Linked DNA regions of Homo sapiens: regions 1 and 3 are each linked to region 2. Evidence: fine-mapped expression QTL. A gene starts in region 2. Each other region holds a variant in brackets. All regions are shown on one strand. Distances are from middle to middle. Region 1 overlaps SLC31A2 (solute carrier family 31 member 2). Region 2 holds the start of FKBP15 (FKBP prolyl isomerase family member 15). Region 3 overlaps FKBP15 (FKBP prolyl isomerase family member 15).

Region 1 (6,325 bases), 57 kb before region 2:
ACTCAGCAAGGGTGGGGAAGAAGGTGCAGGATAGAGGTGGATGGAGTGGATTCCATGAACAGGTGGAGGTGCTGGAAGGGAAACAGTGCTGGCCTGGCCAGGTCTCCACAACTCTGCCTCCTTTGACAGGCATGGCCCTTTCGGTGTTGGTGCTCCTGCTTCTGGCTGTACTGTATGAAGGCATCAAGGTTGGCAAAGCCAAGCTGCTCAACCAGGTACTGGTGAACCTGCCAACCTCCATCAGCCAGCAGACCATCGCAGAGACAGACGGGGACTCTGCAGGCTCAGATTCATTCCCTGTTGGCAGAACCCACCACAGGTACAGGCAGTGGGTATGGGAAAGGGGCAGAAGCCTCACATTCACCCTGAGAGACAGGCTGGCCCAGACAGCATTAGCCCCACTTCACAGAGAGGACAGCGAGGCCCAGGGAAGGACCAGGACTTGCCAAAGTGGCTACACATAGCCAAGTGAACTAGAGCTCATGTCTCCTGATGCCCAGGCCAAAGCACTCTGTGAACAGCCAGCCACTTGAGAGGCTCAGAAGGCTTTCTTTAGGGAACAGTGATCTTCAGGTGCAGGCCCCTATCTAGCAAATGAGGTGGCCACCCACCCTCCCCCAAATCTCACCAGTTCCATGGGTCACTAGGCTCCCATATCCAGGAGGGGATCTGCAGCTGTCCTGAAGCAATGTATCCCACTTGGTGGGAGGAGGATGACAAGCTCTCCTCTCCTCCCTTCCCACTCGAATCAGGCAACCATTTAGGGTCCCTGTTCTGCCCTCTGTCCAGCCCCAGCCTCACCTGTGCTTAATAAGCCTGCCCGCTCCATCACTAGCCACCCTACATGGGTGTCTCAGATCTTCACAACTGCACTGCAAGGGAAGTATTCTCATTCCTGTTTTACTGATAAGGAATCTTACGTTCAGAGAGGTTAAGACATTTGTCTAGGCCACTTTTAGTTAGTGGCAGGTCTAGGAACTGATAATGTCACCTAAGACCATGCTTTTTCTTTCCATTGTCATACTGCCTCCCGAAGTAGATTCAGGGGGGAAATATGCCTTACTGATGATTTTCTCTTATTCCTTATCAGAAAGACAGATTATAGATACCCTCATTTTCCCCTTTGCCTAGGATGCCAGGAAGCTTGAAACCAAATGTAGTGAAGATATGTCTCTTTAAAAATAAATCTCGAGTTTTTTCTGGGGGCGGGGGTGGGAGGGGCAGAAAGAAATCACTCCTGGGTTAAGCATACAAGTTATAAATCAATCGGGTCACGTAACTCAACAGCTTTCTACTCCCTGATATCTACTCCCAGCTTCCTCATTACCAGCTCATTACCAGGATTAACTTGCTTCTCCTTTTTATCTAGGTGGTATTTGTGTCACTTTGGCCAGTCTCTAATCCATGTCATCCAGGTGGTCATCGGCTACTTCATCATGCTGGCCGTAATGTCCTACAACACCTGGATTTTCCTTGGTGTGGTCTTGGGCTCTGCTGTGGGCTACTACCTAGCTTACCCACTTCTCAGCACAGCTTAGCTGGTGAGGAACGTGCAGGCACTGAGGCTGGAGGGACATGGAGCCCCCTCTTCCAGACACTATACTTCCAACTGCCCTTTCTTCTGATGGCTATTCCTCCACCTTATTCCCAGCCCCTGGAAACTTTGAGCTGAAGCCAGCACTTGCTCCCTGGAGTTCGGAAGCCATTGCAGCAACCTTCCTTCTCAGCCAGCCTACGTAGGGCCCAGGCATGGTCTTGTGTCTTAAGACAGCTGCTGTGACCAAAGGGAGAATGGAGATAACAGGGGTGGCAGGGTTACTGAGCCCATGACAATGCTTCTCTGTGACTCAAACCAGGAATTTCCAAAGATTTCAAGCCAGGGAGAAGGGTTCTTGGTGATGCAGGGCATGGAACCTGGACACCCTCAGCTCTCCTGCTTTGTGCCTTATCTACAGGAGCATCGCCCATTGGACTTCCTGACCTCTTCTGTCTTTGAGGGACAGAGACCAAGCTAGATCCTTTTTCTCACCTTTCTGCCTTTGGAACACATGAAGATCATCTCGTCTATGGATCATGTTGACAAACTAAGTTTTTTTTATTTTTCCCATTGAACTCCTAGTTGGCAATTTTGCACATTCATACAAAAAAATTTTTAATGAAATGATTTCATTGATTCATGATGGATGGCAGAAACTGCTGAGACCTATTTCCCTTTCTTGGGGAGAGAATAAGTGACAGCTGATTAAAGGCAGAGACACAGGACTGCTTTCAGGCTCCTGGTTTATTCTCTGATAGACTGAGCTCCTTCCACCAGAAGGCACTGCCTGCAGGAAGAAGATGATCTGATGGCCGTGGGTGTCTGGGAAGCTCTTCGTGGCCTCAATGCCCTCCTTTATCCTCATCTTTCTTCTATGCAGAACAAAAAGCTGCATCTAATAATGTTCAATACTTAATATTCTCTATTTATTACTTACTGCTTACTCGTAATGATCTAGTGGGGAAACATGATTCATTCACTTAAAATACTGATTAAGCCA[TG/T]GGCAGGTACTGACTGAAGATGCAATCCAACCAAAGCCATTACATTTTTTGAGTTAGATGGGACTCTCTGGATAGTTGAACCTCTTCACTTTATAAAAAAGGAAAGAGAGAAAATCACTGCTGTATACTAAATACCTCACAGATTAGATGAAAAGATGGTTGTAAGCTTTGGGAATTAAAAACAAACAAATACATTTTAGTAAATATATATTTTTAAATAGTCTATGACTGTTCTGTTCTCCTAATTCCAACAGAAAGCACATGAACCCTTGTAACAACTGCAGGGGCTGAGTGGGGCTAATAGAACTGGTAGTACTCTTTATAAGCCTGTCTGAGGACAGAGTCCATCCATCTGCTACAAAGACAACTCTGCTCAGGGAAACCCAGCCCTGAAATGCTGCACCCAGGTAGACACCCCAGAATGCCAACTGAGGCAAGTCAAGTCATTCTTCATTCATGTAACAAGTATTAATTGAGTACATGCTATAAGAAAAGTAACTGTCACACGGACTTTAAGCACCTGTGTTGGCACAATTACTCAGCATCTTCTCTCCCTGCGGGCAGAAGCAAATATAATAGCCACTAGTTAATTTACAATAAGAAATAACTGCCCTAGAAAGTAGACTATGTCACACCTTTAGGACTGATCAGGGCATTCCCCCATGTTTGCAGGGAACTGGAAAGCTGCCTGGTGTCTCAAGAAGCCTGTTTCTAAAAGCATCACCGCCCCTTCCCCCAACCAGTGACAGTCAGGCTGTGCTGGCCAAGAGCCCAGGCTCTGGAATCAGATGGCCAGGATTTGAATTCTTGTGCTGAGGCTTCCTAGATATGTAACTTTGGGCAAATTACTTTACCTCTCTAAGTCTCAGTTTTCTCCTCTATAAAATGGTGATAACACTGTCTTCTGCAGTGGTTGCTGGAGATAAGCCAGTCTGTGAAAGTGCCAAACAGCACCGCCTTTTGTTAAGCAACAAAGAAATAATTAGTTCTCACTGCCTCCCAGGTCCGCACACGGGAGACATATCCAAAGCCTGCAAGGATGATGCCAGGCCAGATGAAGTGGAATTTTGGGTCCTATCTTTTAAAACATTTAAAATCAAGAAACATTTTTTATTAAAATTAATTATTCTGTTTTTTTAAAGACTGATTGCATAATCTTTGGAAGATCCTGGAATCAAGAAAATGACCACAAGTATTTTCTCACTACTGTTCTCTGCATAAGTCCTGGTCCCATGAGTTCTAAGGGAATGGAAGCTGCTCTCAAAGTGAAGAATCCCTCAGGTGCCATGAACAATGGAAAGAAGGGACCCTCTCACCTTCTTTGCATGGCTTCCTAGACTGCAGGACTAAGCCTGCAGGAGCAAGAGGATGACTGGACTGGTCCTCACAGAACCATCATGCCCCAGGGATGAGCTAGGACTACAGTGGTGACTTTCTTTGAAAGCCTAAAAGTTCCAGGGTTAGGTATCAAAGGGAGTAAATATGCCACAACGTTTTGTGCACATTAACTGACCCAGATCTGTAAGACTCCTACCCTTAGATTCCCAAAAGAGCACAGACAGCCCTTGGAACCAAACTCAATTTTTCTCCAAGGGCTTGGGTCAAGTTTCATTATAGACATTTATTTTAGTTTTATTTTCAAAGTCATTGACCTCTTGTATCAGATTTAAGGCAAAGAAGAAGATACATGTCCCAGGACTATAGGCCAGGCTGTTGACTGCACTGGGATTTAGATGGTGTAATCTCCCTTAGTTCTACCAGGGAGACCTCAGCCCAGGTCTTGTTGCCGGGGCACAGTTGAGCACTGGATTCAGGTAGAGGAGGGCTCCCAGGTCAGTCTGAGAGTTAATGAAGAGATTAAAAAGTCTGGCAGAGGACAGGACTCTTACAGGTGACTGGCTTGGAGGGGAACCTACCAGTCCTTCTTCCAACTTGCTGCTGAAATCCCAGTGTTCTTGAAGACAGGGTTATGATCCTCTTCACCAGGTCTGGCGGGGGTGGGGCTCAGAAGGTGGCCAACCCACCCTCTGAGCCCAAATATTGTTCCCAGAATGCTCACCTTGACCTCACCCTGTGGTTCGCCTAGACCCAGGGTTGGCTGTGCAAAATCATGCTTAGGGAAGGGTTGCAGAGAAACCTTTGCACCAGTTTCCTGGGTCTTCATCCCAGCCAGTCAATGTCATCGTCATCATCATCATCTCCAAAAAGGGGCGTTGGGGGCGGGCGTCCCTTCATGCTCTGATAAAACAGGAAAGAGCAGTCAGTCCTCACTTGTGCCTGCACCACTGGACTTTCCACCTGTGAGTGGAAGCAATCCAACTTCTGTTCCCAGCTCTGGGTCAGAAAGGAGGTTGTACTGACAGGGCCAACTCTGAGGCCAGCAAACCTAGGCTTCCAGATAAAGCTGAGACCAGCAGGCAGAGAAGGGAGGCAGTCTTTCAACAGAGACAAAAGATGAACTTTGTTTGGCTAATCTCATCATTTATTTATGAAGCACATGTACTGATTTGACAGATTTTCCTCTCATGCAGTAACTTACACATTTTGTGTGGAGAAAGAAGGGTCAAAGAGGAAACACTGGAGCAGTAGGAAGAAACAGAAGCAAAGCAGCCCTGAGAGAGCGAGAGGAAGTGGGAAGAAGGGAGGTTGGGAAGAAGACAATCACATATGGAAAAATACTGTCGTCGTGGCCTAAGGTGGCCTGACTGGCTCTGGGTGTGATCCCATCATTTGAAAGAGTTGAATTTGGAGGCTTGGCCAACTGGAGAATCCTAAGAGGTGAAGAACACGGGGCCACAGCCTCCCACACCTCTAGCCTGACTGGCACCACCCTCGCTCCTTCCAGCTAAGGTAGTGGGGGTGAAAGGGACTGATGGGCCATGAGAGACCCTCTCTTTTCACAGCTTGAGCTCCTGGCCTTTCTCCTCTGGCTTGGCAAGGGAACAGGACCTACCCGGCTAGCAGGGATTGATGCTACAGACAGGCACGAACTGAATAGTCTCTACTAAGGCATTCTCTGCTCTGGTGAGCAACTGCCAACCAGAATCCATCTTCACAGGGCCAGGCAAAAGGGAAGGCAGCGTGATGTGTATACAAGTCTCTGGGCTAATCCCACGTCACTACCAATTAGCCAGACCTCGTACTTCTCTCTGGACATCAATGACGTGATCTCTAACTCTGACAGTATAGGATTTTCAAGTGTGGCTCACAGCTTCTGTTTTGTCCTGACTAAAGTTCTGGCTCTACATTTACTAGCTATATAAGCTTAGTTAAATTATTTAATCTTCCTGAGCCTCAGCCCTCTGATATATAAAATGGGATAAAAGTACCTACCTCATTGGATTAGTAGATTAAATGACAACATCTGTGAAGTCGTTTTCAGAGTACCCAAGAACTACATGTTAACTGGACAGTATTGGTACTAATACCAATAATATGCTCACTAATTAAAAGCTTCCAACTATATTTAGGGCAGTCACTTAGAATATACTCAATTTGGTTTTTCCCCCTTTTTTCCTTTTTTTAAGGGCAGAATTGCTATTCTGGATTCTCAAATGAAAATTTAACTCTTGAGAAGAAAGACTCATGGAAGGAACTGGTACATTCCCCAAAGGAACACAGGCAAGAGGGAAGGGCTCCGATACATGCAAGCTGGAGCATAGATCCATCACAGCTCTCTGCTCAAGGTTTTGGCAAAAGGCAAAATCCACTCTGGCTGATACATGAGGGGACAAAATTTGCCCCATTCACCCTCATATTTCTGTCCTTTAGATGGACTGAGCCTGAA
Region 2 (6,325 bases):
TTATCTCAAAATGTGGTTCAACTCAGATACCCCTGCAAGGGTGAAAGCATGCTTGATTGACACGGAAGTTGACCTGCAACCATAAACTGGTATTAGCATTAACATTAAAACTACAGAACTGGCAAAGGTCTCAAAGTTTATCTAGGTCAAACCTCATTATTGAATAGGTTGGGGTATGGAGGGACAAGGATGGAAGATAATCTGTCCAAAGTCACATTCCTAACTGGGGATAGAATCAACATTTGAATCTAGGCTTTTTCCTATCTTTTACAGAACTCAAAATGCTTTCTGATGATCGGTTAATTTATCTTTCTACCATCTTTAGACTGGTGATTTATCATTACTATGCTAATCGGATCTGCCTACACATACCTTTATAATCTAAAACAAATATATACATAATTGGCCCCTTAAAAATGCTTTGTGATTATTATTCCTGGATTGATTTTATTCTACTACTAAAATAAAAGTTTCTTAGGGGCAGAAACTGTGCCTTATTCCTATCTGGATTAGCTGAAGCCAAGTACTATTAGTTCATTACTATTACTTCCCACAACGGTGAGGAATGGGCTAAAACAAACTAACAAACAAAAACAAGGCTCCTGATTACTACTTCTAGATTAATAGTAAACTCTAAGAGGCCTAGAAACTCAGAAGGCAGATTATCAGATACTCCTACTTCTATTAGGCTTGAATATCCTTCATGAAATCAAGCAAATCATGTGTTTAAATCAAGAGACTTGGAACTTAAGCAAGTATACTTACAGTAATATATGGCTATAAAAGAGGAAGTGAAAAGTAGCTGCAGTATTCACTGTCATATGTTCTACTTCCTTAGAGAAAACCAAAAAAGGAATAGCTAAATCAGAGAATTGTGGTGAAACTTTCTGTATTCTCAGTGTTAAATTTGATTTGGTTTTCCTGATAACTGTGGGGAACAAAAATAAACTATAACTTTCCTCAGTATGTCTTTTACCATCAAATTAGCTGTTGTCTATGTCTAGGAGCACAGTCACATGCCTAGAATTCAAGTGTCTCAGATCCTTGAGAAGCCTGCTCAGGAAAAAAGAATAGTTGAGCCACCAAGAATTTATCTCTGGCCAGGAATCTGGAAAAGAGCACATGGCTGTCATTACCTATCCCATAATTTTCAGTCAGCTTGGACTGATTGTTGCATGAAAATTGGGAGCCCTAACATTACAGACTTCTCCCAAATACTTTCACATAGTGAAGAATGCGAATTTAAAGTGGAATAGGGAAAAAAGGAACAAAAGCACAGCTTAACTGTAAAATAACTGAGAAACGGAAAGAACTCAAAGTGGAACTAAGTGAATGCAGGCCATCTAAAGACGGGGTAGGAAGGGAACAGAGTGGTGAGAGTGAAAAAGACTAAAAGGTAGGTAATATAGAGCTAGTCAGTGTAAATCAAAAATTCCTACTTAAGGACAAAAGAAGGCCAGTGTCATTTTATGGTCATTCATCTATTAACTCATTTGTTTATGTATTGTCTATGACTACTCTCACCCTACAAGGCAGAACTGAGTATTTGTGGTTGCAATAGAAACCACATGGCCCAACAGATCTGGAAGCAACTTAAGGGCAGGCACAGCAGTTTAATCATTTTTGTAACCTCTTAGCATTTAGCAGAATAAGGGGCATATGTGGTGCATTTGTCATTTTTCCAGTACATTCTTCAGCACGCACAAAATTTGTTAAGCATATGTTCAAAGAAAAGCTCTGCAATGATCAGAGCTTGGTAGCTCACAAGTTTGGAGGAAGTCAAGCTGTCCACTGGCACAACACAATGGAAAAGGCTAAACTGACTACTAAAAGAGACAAAACCCTTCCTCTCTTTAAAGATTTCTATTCCAGGCTGGTATATATTAATATAATGCTTGGGGAAACTGGAGAATGACAGAAGTCTGTTACGTTGGTTTTAAGCTTTAAGCTTTACAAAGTGCAATTTCGCAGCTATTATTCATTCAACAGCCACTTCCTGAGCACTCACTATGTGCTAGGTACCATGCTGCATGCTAGACAGAAATGAACACCATAAGCAGTCCCTGTCCGGTGAGGACTCATAATCTAATAGGTGCGGGGTATAAGAATAGAGGCAAACACACCTAGCTGCAGGAATAAGGAAGAGAAAGCAATTCATTCTGCCTGAGGTTGCAGAAGGAAAAGCATCCAAAACGTGACATCCGAGCTGGGCCTTGAAGAATGCTAGAGCTGACCCACCAAGGCCTGGTTCTAAAGTGTCTTCGCCTTCTCCATGGAGAAAAGAAGTCTCACATCAGCCCCAGCTGACTCCTATAAAAATTCTGAGGCAGGAAGTCTCATCAGCAATCATTCCCATTTCACCGGAGAAATTGTGACCCAGAATGCAAAAGGCAAACCCAGGGCTATCTTCCCGCCAAGAGAGATGCCGGGTCCCGAACCTCAGATCGGCAGGGTCAGCACAGTTGCAAGTTCTGCCCAGATTCTGAGAGGTGTAGAGCACCGGAATGTGGCAAGGGTCTCCCCCCGGAAGTTGGGAAAAGGCCTGAGAAGAGATCGACCCCCCTCCAACAATCCGCCGGTATCTCTCAGCCACGCCCTCCAGCGCATACTTCTCAGTCACTCACCCGCCGCTCGGCGAGAGGAAATCGGTGTCGTCCTCGTCCCCCGCACCGAACATTGCGTTGGCTTTCACCGGGTTGCGGGGAGGAAGCTGGGTATTCCCAGAGTCCCAGGGCCTGTCACCGCCGACGTCGTAAAATGCCGCGGCGGCGTGCTGCTTTCCGGCAGGGCGAACTCCAGCACGGTCTCTGGACCGAAAGTAGACTGGGCTCTGGAGAAGGTGGGGCAAAGGCAAATGAGAGGCTCGCGCGGGCACGAGCGCCGAGTGACGTCAGGCCTCTCCAGCCCGCAGCGGGGCGGAGCTTCACAGCCCCTTGCAGGGATTGGTCGGTAATGCTAGGGGGCGGGAGGGGGCGGGAAATCCTCGGCCTCGGTGGCGGTGGTGGACACGTCGAGCCGGGTAGAAGTGGAGGGGCCGTTCGAAGAGTCGTGAGGGGGTGACGGGTTAAGATTCGGAGAGAGAGGTGCTAGTGGCTGGACTTGACCTGGAAAGGTAAGGCTTCTCTCGGCCCCTCTTTCGCACCCCTGTGCATGGGTACCGTCCTTTTCCCAGCGGGACAAGGACCTTCCTCGCCGCTTTCCTCAGCTCCGCGGAAGGAGAAAGAGCTCGGGACTGGAGGGTTAAAGACTGGGGCTTCGGCCCGGCCCCTGCAGTGGCATAGCCAGAGTGACCTTGGGCCGGGGTGCTCGGTGCCTCAGTTTCCCCGTGTATGCAACCGGCCATTTGTCCAGTTCTTCCATGTGCCTGCTGGTCCAGAAGATTTTAGAGCTCAGAGGCCATGGATTTCAATCCCGGCCTCCTCGTAATCTCAGAATTTACAGATAGGGAGACGAAGGAACTAAGCACCCGGGTGACTAGTCCGAGGTCACAAAGAGTAAAGGGCAGACTGAGACTGGATTCCTCGTCCTTTGATTCAGGACATAGTGAGCTAGTGGGTGAACAAGAACCTTATCAGCCCTTAAGCACTGTGTGCCCTTACAGAGTGACTATTGAAAGACTGTAGCATACACCTCGAGGAAAGTCCCCTTTCTAGAGTCCACCTGTATTCTACGCGGATGAGGTGCAGAAGAGCTAAGATATTCTGGCGGTGGGTGATGGAAAGGAGGATACTTTGGAGGCAGACACATCCCCACCCCAACTTTGGCGTGGGTTTCCCTGGGTCTTCCTGCGACAGCCCTAAATCAACATCAATTGTGGCGGACTCCTCTGCCTCCAGTTTCCACCCTATCTGTATCTTACATAAGTATTTCTTTGGTTAACCTGGTATCATTCTCGAAACAATCCTGGGGTAGTCCTGGCTTAGACAAGGTGTGGCTAAGGAGATAGTGTCCCAGCGTAGCGTCCACAGACTCACTGGAGTTCTTGGGCTTCCCCTCACAGTCAGGTTGGTACTACAGGTGTCCCTTACGTGAATGTTTCAATCTGTCAGTATGAAATTGAAATGAAATGATTGGTAGCTCCCTCCCAGAGAACTTTGCACCTCCTGGCAAAGATGTTAAAGCAGCGAAGGCTCACAGTTGGAATGATGCAACTGGAATCTAAGCACTAGAACCGGAACTGGAACTAGAATCTAAGGACTAGCACTAGAACTGTTGCAGTAGCTCTGTTTAGTGTGTGAACTTGGCTACCTCTTGGAGGTGTTGGGGGAGTAACTGGATTAAGTACCATGGCACTTTCTAATCCCTCTCCCCAACACCGGTCACTGTGATTGCAGCACTGAAACATCTAAATGTTTAACAGAAAGAGCTTGCTAGCCCCTGGCTTACATTATCTATGGTATTTTTAACATGGAATGAATACTTAAAGTCACTTGCAAAGCAGTCTCACTGCAGAATCTTTCTAGGTGTTTATGACATGTCCTTCCAGCCTTTTCTTTAAAAAAAAAAAATGGCCAAGGGAATATTTGAACTCTTATCTTGTATTCTTGGGTGGAGCTGATTTTATCCTGGATGTTTAAGTAGCTTTTGTAGGTACTCAGGAATCCTAAAATCAATAGCCTTTTTGGTGATTGGAACATCACGAACATGCATACGCAGATTATCACTGTAGAAACACAGCTGCTGATTCTCATTAGCAGTATGAGGAGGAGGAAGATGATGGTGAGTCTTGCCAGGCTTTGAACTGCAGGACTGGGTGCACCTAAAAAAAAAAAAAAAGAAAGCCACTGTCTTCCTAAATTCGTGTATCTTCAGATTGGTAATACTGGACTAGGAATCAGGAAATCTGAATTCCTGTCCCAGCCCTTATAACTCACTCTGAGTTTGGGCCAGGCTCCCTAAGCACTGTAAAATGAGTGGATTAGACCTGGACTTCTACTGAGTAACTGCTGGGGATACAAAGGTAAGTAAGGCACAACCTTGATCTCAAGTTTAAAGTAAGCATTTTTGTTTATTTGTTTTGCTTAAGTATACAACTTTTAGAATACTCATAAAATATATTGTCAACCCCCAGAAGATTGGCCAGGAAGCAGCAATTTTTTTTCTCCACCCTCCACTCCCCTTACTCCCTCAGGGAAGCAGCAATTTTAATAATTATTTTCAAATTATCAGCAATTTTGCAACAGAGATGACAGTCTTTATATACGAGTATACCCATACTAATCTGTAATGATGCATGCATTTTAAAATTAGTAGTTTAAAGTTATAACCAAGTTATATCAGGCATAATGATAGGAATATGAATTAAATGCAGGTTCTAGGGGATCTATAACATTCCGTTCACTCAGTCACTGAAAGCAGACTTAGGGCCATTAGTTGGTTAACTGAAGAAGTAAGTTAAAGCAGGGAATCATACAGATAATAGTTATATGCATAACATTTTAACGAACACATAAACATTCTTTTGCCATTCTTTTAACATAAGGCCTCAGCCTTTTCTTGGAGTGTAGGACCCTGTTGCCTGTTTTTATAAGTAAAGCTTTATTAGAACACAGCCTTTCTCATTTGTTTATGTATTGTCTATGACTCCTCTTACCCTCCAAGGCAGAATTGAATATTTGTGATTGCAACAGAAACCACATGGCCTGCAACATCTAAAATGTTTACTTTTGGCCCTTTATAGAAAGAGCTTGCTAGCCCCTGGCCTACGTTATCTATGGTATTTTTAACATGGAATGAATACTTAAAGTCACTTGCAAAGCAGTCTCACTGCAGAATCTTTCTAGGTGTTTATGAAATGTCCTTCCAGACTTTTCTGTTGTCTCCCACACCTAACAGCAAGTTTATGTGTTATCTGTATGCTCACTTTTTTTTTTTTTTTTGAGACAGAGTTTCGCTCTTGTTGCCCAGGCTTGAATGCAATGGCACAATCTCGGCTCACCACAACCTCCACCTCCCGGGTTCAAGCGATTCTCCAGCCTCACCCTCCCGAGTAGCTGGGATTACAGGCATGTGCCACCATGCCCGGCTAATTTTGTATTTTTAGTAGAGACGGGGTTTCTCCATGTTGGTCAGGCTGGTCTGGAACTCCCGACCTCAGGTGATCCACCCGCCTTGGCCTCCCAAAGTGCTAGGATTAGAGGCGTGGGCCAACGCACCCGGCCTTGTGTGCTCACTTTTATCTGGTCTTTCGAAAGCATTCAGTGTGGTGTTTTAGAAATAACTACTAGAGAGTCTATGTAGTACAGTAGTTAAGTACTTGAGCTCTGGAGCCAAATTGCTTTGCCACTTATTAGTTGTATAGGCCATAGACAAGTTACTCAGTTTT
Region 3 (6,325 bases), 33 kb before region 2:
TATGGAGGGGAAGGACAGTAACTTCACTTTACACCCTTTTGTACTGCTTGACTTTTTTATAAAAGTCTCTTATTTTCATAATTTAAAAATGTTAACAGAGTAGCTTTCATTAGAGATACTAAACACCTATAGTATTCAACTTTCTCCCAATTTCCTCCAATGTTTTGCTCTTTTACTATTTTCTCTAAACTCTAGCTACTCTAACAGAGGAATTAAAAGGGCCAGGGGAGAAAATCCAAGGAAAAAAACACAGAATGTGGACACAAGGAAACATTGGGGGATGACGGAAATGTTCTAAAATAGGATTGTAGTGATGAATGCACAACTCTGCAAATTTACTAAAACACTTTTGAATTGCACATTTAAAATGAATGAATGTGTGGAATACATATTATATCTCAACAAAGCTGTTAAAAAAGAGAAGAAACAATGAGTAGAGAGCTGTTGGTGTGAAAATGAAGGAGGAGCAAGAAGAGGGAAAGCACAGCAAGAGCGGAAGATGAGAAACTGAGGGAATTACTCCCTACCTTGGAAATGGGGAGGCTGAGAGAGCGGTGCTGGGTACAAAGGCCGAACGGGCTGCAGCTGGGAGGTGACGGCAGATGCCTGGGGATAAGCGTAGGCTTGCATACCTGCATAGGGCTGAGAAACTGACGAGTTACCACTGGTTGATAAAACATTCATGTCTTTCTTTTTTGTTCACATTTTTCTTTGGTGGAATAAAGTGGATGAGCTGGGAGGAGACTCAAACTTACTGAAGCTAGAGATGGGTGAGATCTGGGTTTGGCAGTTGGTAAGGACTGCAGCAGGAGAGTTATCTATGTATCCCAGGGGAAACCAGTCACTAAAATCCTACCCAGAAACTGAAGAAAGTGTATCTTAGGTCACTACCCAGTCATCTGGTGAGATAATTAAGCAGGGATTCATTCCCCATTATCAGGCCTATTGTCTAAGAAGTTTTTAGATTAATAAACTCTGCTTAGCTTCCATTGAGTTTAAAGAAGAAGTGCTCACTGAGATTCCAAACCAAATCTGCCAATTTCCAAGGATGCCTCTCCCCTGCTAGATTCTGAAGCTAATCCACGAGACCAAGAGCTCTCATGTTCCTTTGAGTCTCGGTCACCTCAACTGTAAGAGGAAGATAATAATATCACTTCATAGGGCTGTTCTGTGGACTAAATGAAGTGAGATAGGTAAAGTTCTGAAAAGCTAGTAAGTTACAGGCCTGACAGATAGTAAGCGCTTAATAAACAGCAGCTTTTATTTTAATGAGGATGGTAATTCTTCCTTGAAATAAGGAAGTCTAGCTCATTTCCAGGGATAGATATAACTACGCATCCACTTAAAAAAAATTCTTAGTCTACAGCATAGTAATTCTCCATGGAGGAGAGGAGGGATGGGGAGAAAGAGGGCAACAGTGGGACTTTTTCCAGTTTCGAGACTCCCCATGTTAATGAGGCATAGCCTATCCACCATCATTCCCACACCTCCATTAAGCATCACAAGGAGTGAGCAGCTGTTCCCAGTGACAGTATGCCTTATCCACCAAGTGTGTTGAGGCAGAAGAAAGGGTCTGCTACCCCTGGCAAACAGGCTGCTGCCATTGTTTTCTGTGATAACAGGAAAAAGGCCTTCTTTAAGAAAAGTTTACTAGATAGCAGAGTCAAGCTACATTTTCCACATGGTTCCACTTTTAAACCATACCATTCTGCTGAATATACTGCAGAATGTTAGCCTGCCAACTTTTAGTAGAAAAGAATACAGAAGAACGCGAATATACACGCTTCAACTGGATATGTGTGAAAAGAAAAGGAAACAAACATTGATTGCATCTTTACTACGTTGTACTAGGGGCTCTACTTGTTCTTGCATTTAATCTTTATGACACTGGAACGTAGGTTATCCTTTGCCTGGTTTAGAGATGAGAAAGTGGTAACCAAGGAAGGGAAAAAAATTACAAACTCTGACTTTGGGGAACTGCTACTGTATGAAATGTACAGGAAGAAGAAAAGAGACTGACTAGAACCACAGCAAATTATAGGATATAATTAATACGGTTATAAAATGTTACCTGAAAGGATTGGGCATTTCCAGATACAGCTGAGTGGGAATCGAGAGATGACACTTGCATTAAGGCAGCAGAAGGTGCCTGGAGCCCAGTAACAGATGGCTGAGGTGCTAAGATAAAGGGAGACATTTTCACTGTTATCCACCCTTGCTTCTTGGTGTGAGTCTAGACTAGCACCTTACATACTATCATGCTTCAGACTCAACTATTTTCCTTGCCTAGTCTCCCTACACTCAGCTCTACTGCAATCTCAGGAATGAGCCAGTGGAAGGAAACTGGGTGCTCTCATGTGCTTCTGACTCAGCCCTAGGATCCCACCCGACAGGAAGTGCAGAACACACCCAGGGAGATGTCTCAATAGCTGAGTGCAGATTTCCAAAACTGACAGTGCAACACAGCAGAAGTCACAACCAGCAGCCAGGTCCATCTCTGGGTATGAAAATGCCTTACCCAGGGACAAACTGACAAGCGTCACACTCTTACATTTACACTTTAGTCCTCAGTACTGAAACAATGCAGCCTAACAGTTTAAGGAACAGTGACGATAATTTTCATGCTGACCCAGTTCAAGGCCACAGAGCCTCAGAGAGGTTCCTTACCCTGTGAGGTCATCTGTGGTAACGCTGGATGGGCCGG[A/C]TGAAGAGAGGGCTGGACGGACGGAGTCACCACAGGCTGCCCACCTCCTTGCAGAGTGTTCACATCCTGAAACAGGAACAAGCGTTTGGGTTACTCTGTACGGGGTCCCTCATTGAAGACTGAGGCTGACTGTCTGCCCTAAACCTGCTTCCAACACAGGATTTCTAGGCAAAGAAGAGGAAGGAAAGGTAAGCGGAAGGCCAAGAGTTGAGGGTGTGGGTTGTGGAGAAAAAGCACTCTGCTATGCAATAAAGTAAGAGTCCTTCTCCCTATAATCATATTGAATAAGTAAATATAGTTAATTTCCACAAATATTCTCAGAGGTTGATGTTCTATTGTCTGAAGCAGCTAAACTAACCACTCTTCAGAATGTATCATTTTCCAAGCCAGTAACTGCCTTAAGACAAATCTAATCTATTCCCACAAAAAAAGTGGTCTTTTGCAAGAAATAATCCAGCCTCTTCGCTTCTTACAAATCATCCCCATAGTCCTCAAGGTACTCAATGAAAATCAGATAACGTAGGATTCACTGCACCTGATTAACATGCTGTTTTTGGATAATATAGTTTTAGGATGTTTTTCCAACATTCTTTATTTTCATAAAACCAAAGCTTTTCATAAAATCAAAGCTATAACTCTAAACAAAGTTATTCTACCTCCTGCTTCATATAAGAAACAGAAAATCTTGAGGCACAATATACAGTGACTGTAATCTGCTATGCTATAGTTCAAAGACCAAAGTTTCAGACATTCTTTTACTTTAGAACTTCACCTTGTCCCCTTATATTCTCTTCTAGAAAAACATCCCAGTTTTAGATTTCTACAGCTCTTAACCAACCTAAATGTCTAATAACAGAGTGAAAGGAATTATAATAAAATGATATAATGGAACACTGGGTTTCCTTTAAACCACTTTATTTACTTAAATCATTTATGTTAATGTAAATGTTTATGATACAACATTAGGTTTAAAAATCAGGTTACAAAGCAATATATAAAGATGAATGCCCTTTTTGTTCAATATGTTTCTTTTCTATAATTTTAAATTATTCTAAAATGAATAAGTAGCACATAAAATTTTTAATAAAAATATTCTTATTTACACTGCATTTCCAGACCAGAAAAAAATAATCCTATAACAATAGGCCTCAGAAATCCTATCTTCCTTTAAGATGTTAAATCTACATAGAGCTTTTCCAAGAAATAAAACAAAAATGTAAAATATAAAGTATATTCCAGAAAAAATTTTTTCAAGACCATCGCCCTTTCCTTGTTTTCTATCAAAGTAAAAGAATACTAAAAATCAGTCTAAGTTATATATTTCACTTCAATTGAGAAAGGACGATTATATTCAATAAAGAACTAACCACTAGAGAAGAATTAAGTTAAAATTAAGTTACTTTATAGCATACACCAAATTCCAAATGGATTAAAAATTTAGATCTAATTATAAAATATTGATCAATATCTTTAAAAATACATGTGATATTTATAATCTGAAAGTGGAGAGGCTTTCTAAGCATAATGTCAAAAGCAAATAACAAGGGGAGAAAATTGACAGACTTGAATTCAATAAAATTATTGAACTTCTAAATAGAAAACAAACACAAGAATACCACATACAAAGTCAAAAGACATACTAGTTGGAGCTTTAGTGATAGGCAACATCAGCGAGAAGACCAACATTTCCCAAAAGAATCTAAACATTCGCTCAATAAATATGAATTGAACACCTGCTATGGATTGGGCATCATGCTGCCCAGAGAGTGATCTTTAGTAACAACAGAGATTCTAGTAAAGAAGGCTAAATTAACTACTGAAAACTGCCCAGTTCTTGTAAAAGATCTACAAAATTGCTTCCATCTCTCAGGGAAGTACTAATCACAGTAGAAACACATGTACCAATACCAATCTGTATCATTTTGCATATTAGCTCTCTAAATAATGATTCTGCCTTAGAGAAAAAACAATCACTCCAACCAAATGAAAAGAAAGATGATGGCGACATCTGTACTATTCATTCTAATACAGCCAGGGGGACATACTTCGATTTCTGAATCATTGGAATCCAGCTGTGGTGGAAGGATGGGCAGCATGGGCTGGCCCATTTTAGCCATCCGAGAGATCAACTTGGCTTTGACTGCATCGGGACTCTAAAAAGAGAGGAAAGTCACAAAAATCACTGTGATTAAAGCTCATCACCTTCAGGCAGCTCTATCCCTTTGGCTCTTGTATCAAATCCTTCAACAAATCCCCCTACCATATCTATTTAAAAACATTTCCTCTAGAAAATGAGAAAGATTTCTTGCATAGAAGTATACATGGATCACAATTAATAGCAGTAAAAATAATTCCCTGTATCTTTGGAATGGACAAAGTGGTTTCACATACATTGCCTCATTTCAATCAAGTCTCCCCAGCAGGCATAATTAGTCTCATTTTACAGATGAAAAATTAAAGTGAGATGTTAAGAAAGGGAGGCATTTTAGGTGACAGTACCCTCACTCAAAACCCTGAAGCAATTCGGTAGATAATTCAGAAGAGATCTGTGGAGAAAAGGAAACAGGAGCTCTTTGTTTTAACTTCAGGTTCACTTAACTATGACTTGGCATTAACTACCCATTAGACCCTGTGCTAGAAGCTTCCATTAACTGATCCAAAATTTCAGAATGGCAAGTAAGTACACCTGAAGGTGCACAATATGAGCTATTGGGTATAGAAGGAAATGATCATAACCTCCATTTTTATTATTATTACTTTTTTTTTTTTGAGATGGGTTCTCTATCACCCAGGTTGGAGTGCAGTGGCGTGATCTCGGCTCACTGCAACTTCCATTTCCCAGATTTAAGACGTCTTCCCACCCCAGCCTCCCAAGTAGCTGGGACCACAGGCGCTAATTTTTTGTATTTTTGGTCGAGAAAGGGCTTCGCCATGTTGCCCAGGCTGCATTTTTATTATTTTTAAGCTATCAGTGTAAGACACTGAGTTTGCTTACAGGGATTGGTGGTACTTTATGTACATAATTTGTCAATAAACCTATACTGGGAGTGTGTGCTTATTTTTTCGTAACTGATGATGTATCCAAAAAAAGTTGGATACATCAGGAAAGGACTAGTTATATAGACCTTATGCACACAATGGAATATTGTGATATGCAGATTAAAATGAGGAAGCTCTCTATACACCAACATGAAAAGATTCTGCATTATATATATATATAATATAAATTATATATATATAGTTATATGGAAAAGGCAAGGTGCATTACATACAGAGTATGCTACTTTGTGTGTGTGAAAGGAGGGAGGAATAAAAAATACATTTCTACTTGTGTGCACCTGCATAAAGAAACACTGAAAGAATATATAAGAAACTAATAAAAGCAGTTACCTAAGGGGTGTGAGATGGAATAGGGTAGATAAGGACAGGAATAGGAGTGAGTCCTCACAATGTAGATCTTGTTATATTGTTTTGATAACTGTGCCATATAAATGTAATTACCTATTCAAAACAAAAGATAAAAACTAAAATGGAAAAGAAAAAGAAAAAGAAAGGTGGTTAATTTCATGTAACGTGAATTTTGCCTCCATTAAAAAAAACAAATTTGTTTAAAAAAAAAAA

Evidence for each region. PIP is the estimated chance that this variant, and not a neighbour inherited with it, causes the effect.
Region 1: its variant is fine-mapped to the expression of FKBP15 in whole blood (INTERVAL, PIP 0.94).
Region 3: its variant is fine-mapped to the expression of FKBP15 in macrophages (Alasoo 2018, PIP 0.95). The same link has a PIP of 0.9 or more in esophagus mucosa.

Annotation. Positions count from the first base shown.
Region 1 is chr9:113,161,380-113,167,704 of GRCh38, forward strand. It overlaps SLC31A2 (solute carrier family 31 member 2), which reads left to right. Exons shown (of 4, transcript NM_001860.3): 3 at 130-319; 4 at 1,370-2,761. The coding sequence ends at 1,538. It overlaps FKBP15 (FKBP prolyl isomerase family member 15), which reads right to left. Exons shown (of 28, transcript NM_015258.2): 28 at 1-4,776. The coding sequence ends at 4,699. Among named protein-coding and RNA genes, the nearest start is that of SLC31A2, 14 kb to the left of the region's middle. The variant TG/T (reference allele first, on the strand shown) is at 2,538.
Region 2 is chr9:113,218,567-113,224,891 of GRCh38, forward strand. FKBP15 (FKBP prolyl isomerase family member 15) reads right to left here and starts at 2,711. Exons shown (of 28, transcript NM_015258.2): 1 at 2,625-2,711. The coding sequence starts at 2,677. SLC31A1 (solute carrier family 31 member 1) reads left to right here and starts at 2,978. Exons shown (of 5, transcript NM_001859.4): 1 at 2,978-3,112. RefSeq lists enhancers at 2,510-2,639, 2,750-2,859, 3,700-3,889.
Region 3 is chr9:113,185,722-113,192,046 of GRCh38, forward strand. It overlaps FKBP15 (FKBP prolyl isomerase family member 15), which reads right to left. Exons shown (of 28, transcript NM_015258.2): 12 at 4,750-4,857; 13 at 2,668-2,770; 14 at 2,072-2,178; 15 at 528-642. Among named protein-coding and RNA genes, the nearest start is that of FKBP15, 32 kb to the right of the region's middle. RefSeq lists an enhancer at 1,814-3,013. The variant A/C (reference allele first, on the strand shown) is at 2,705.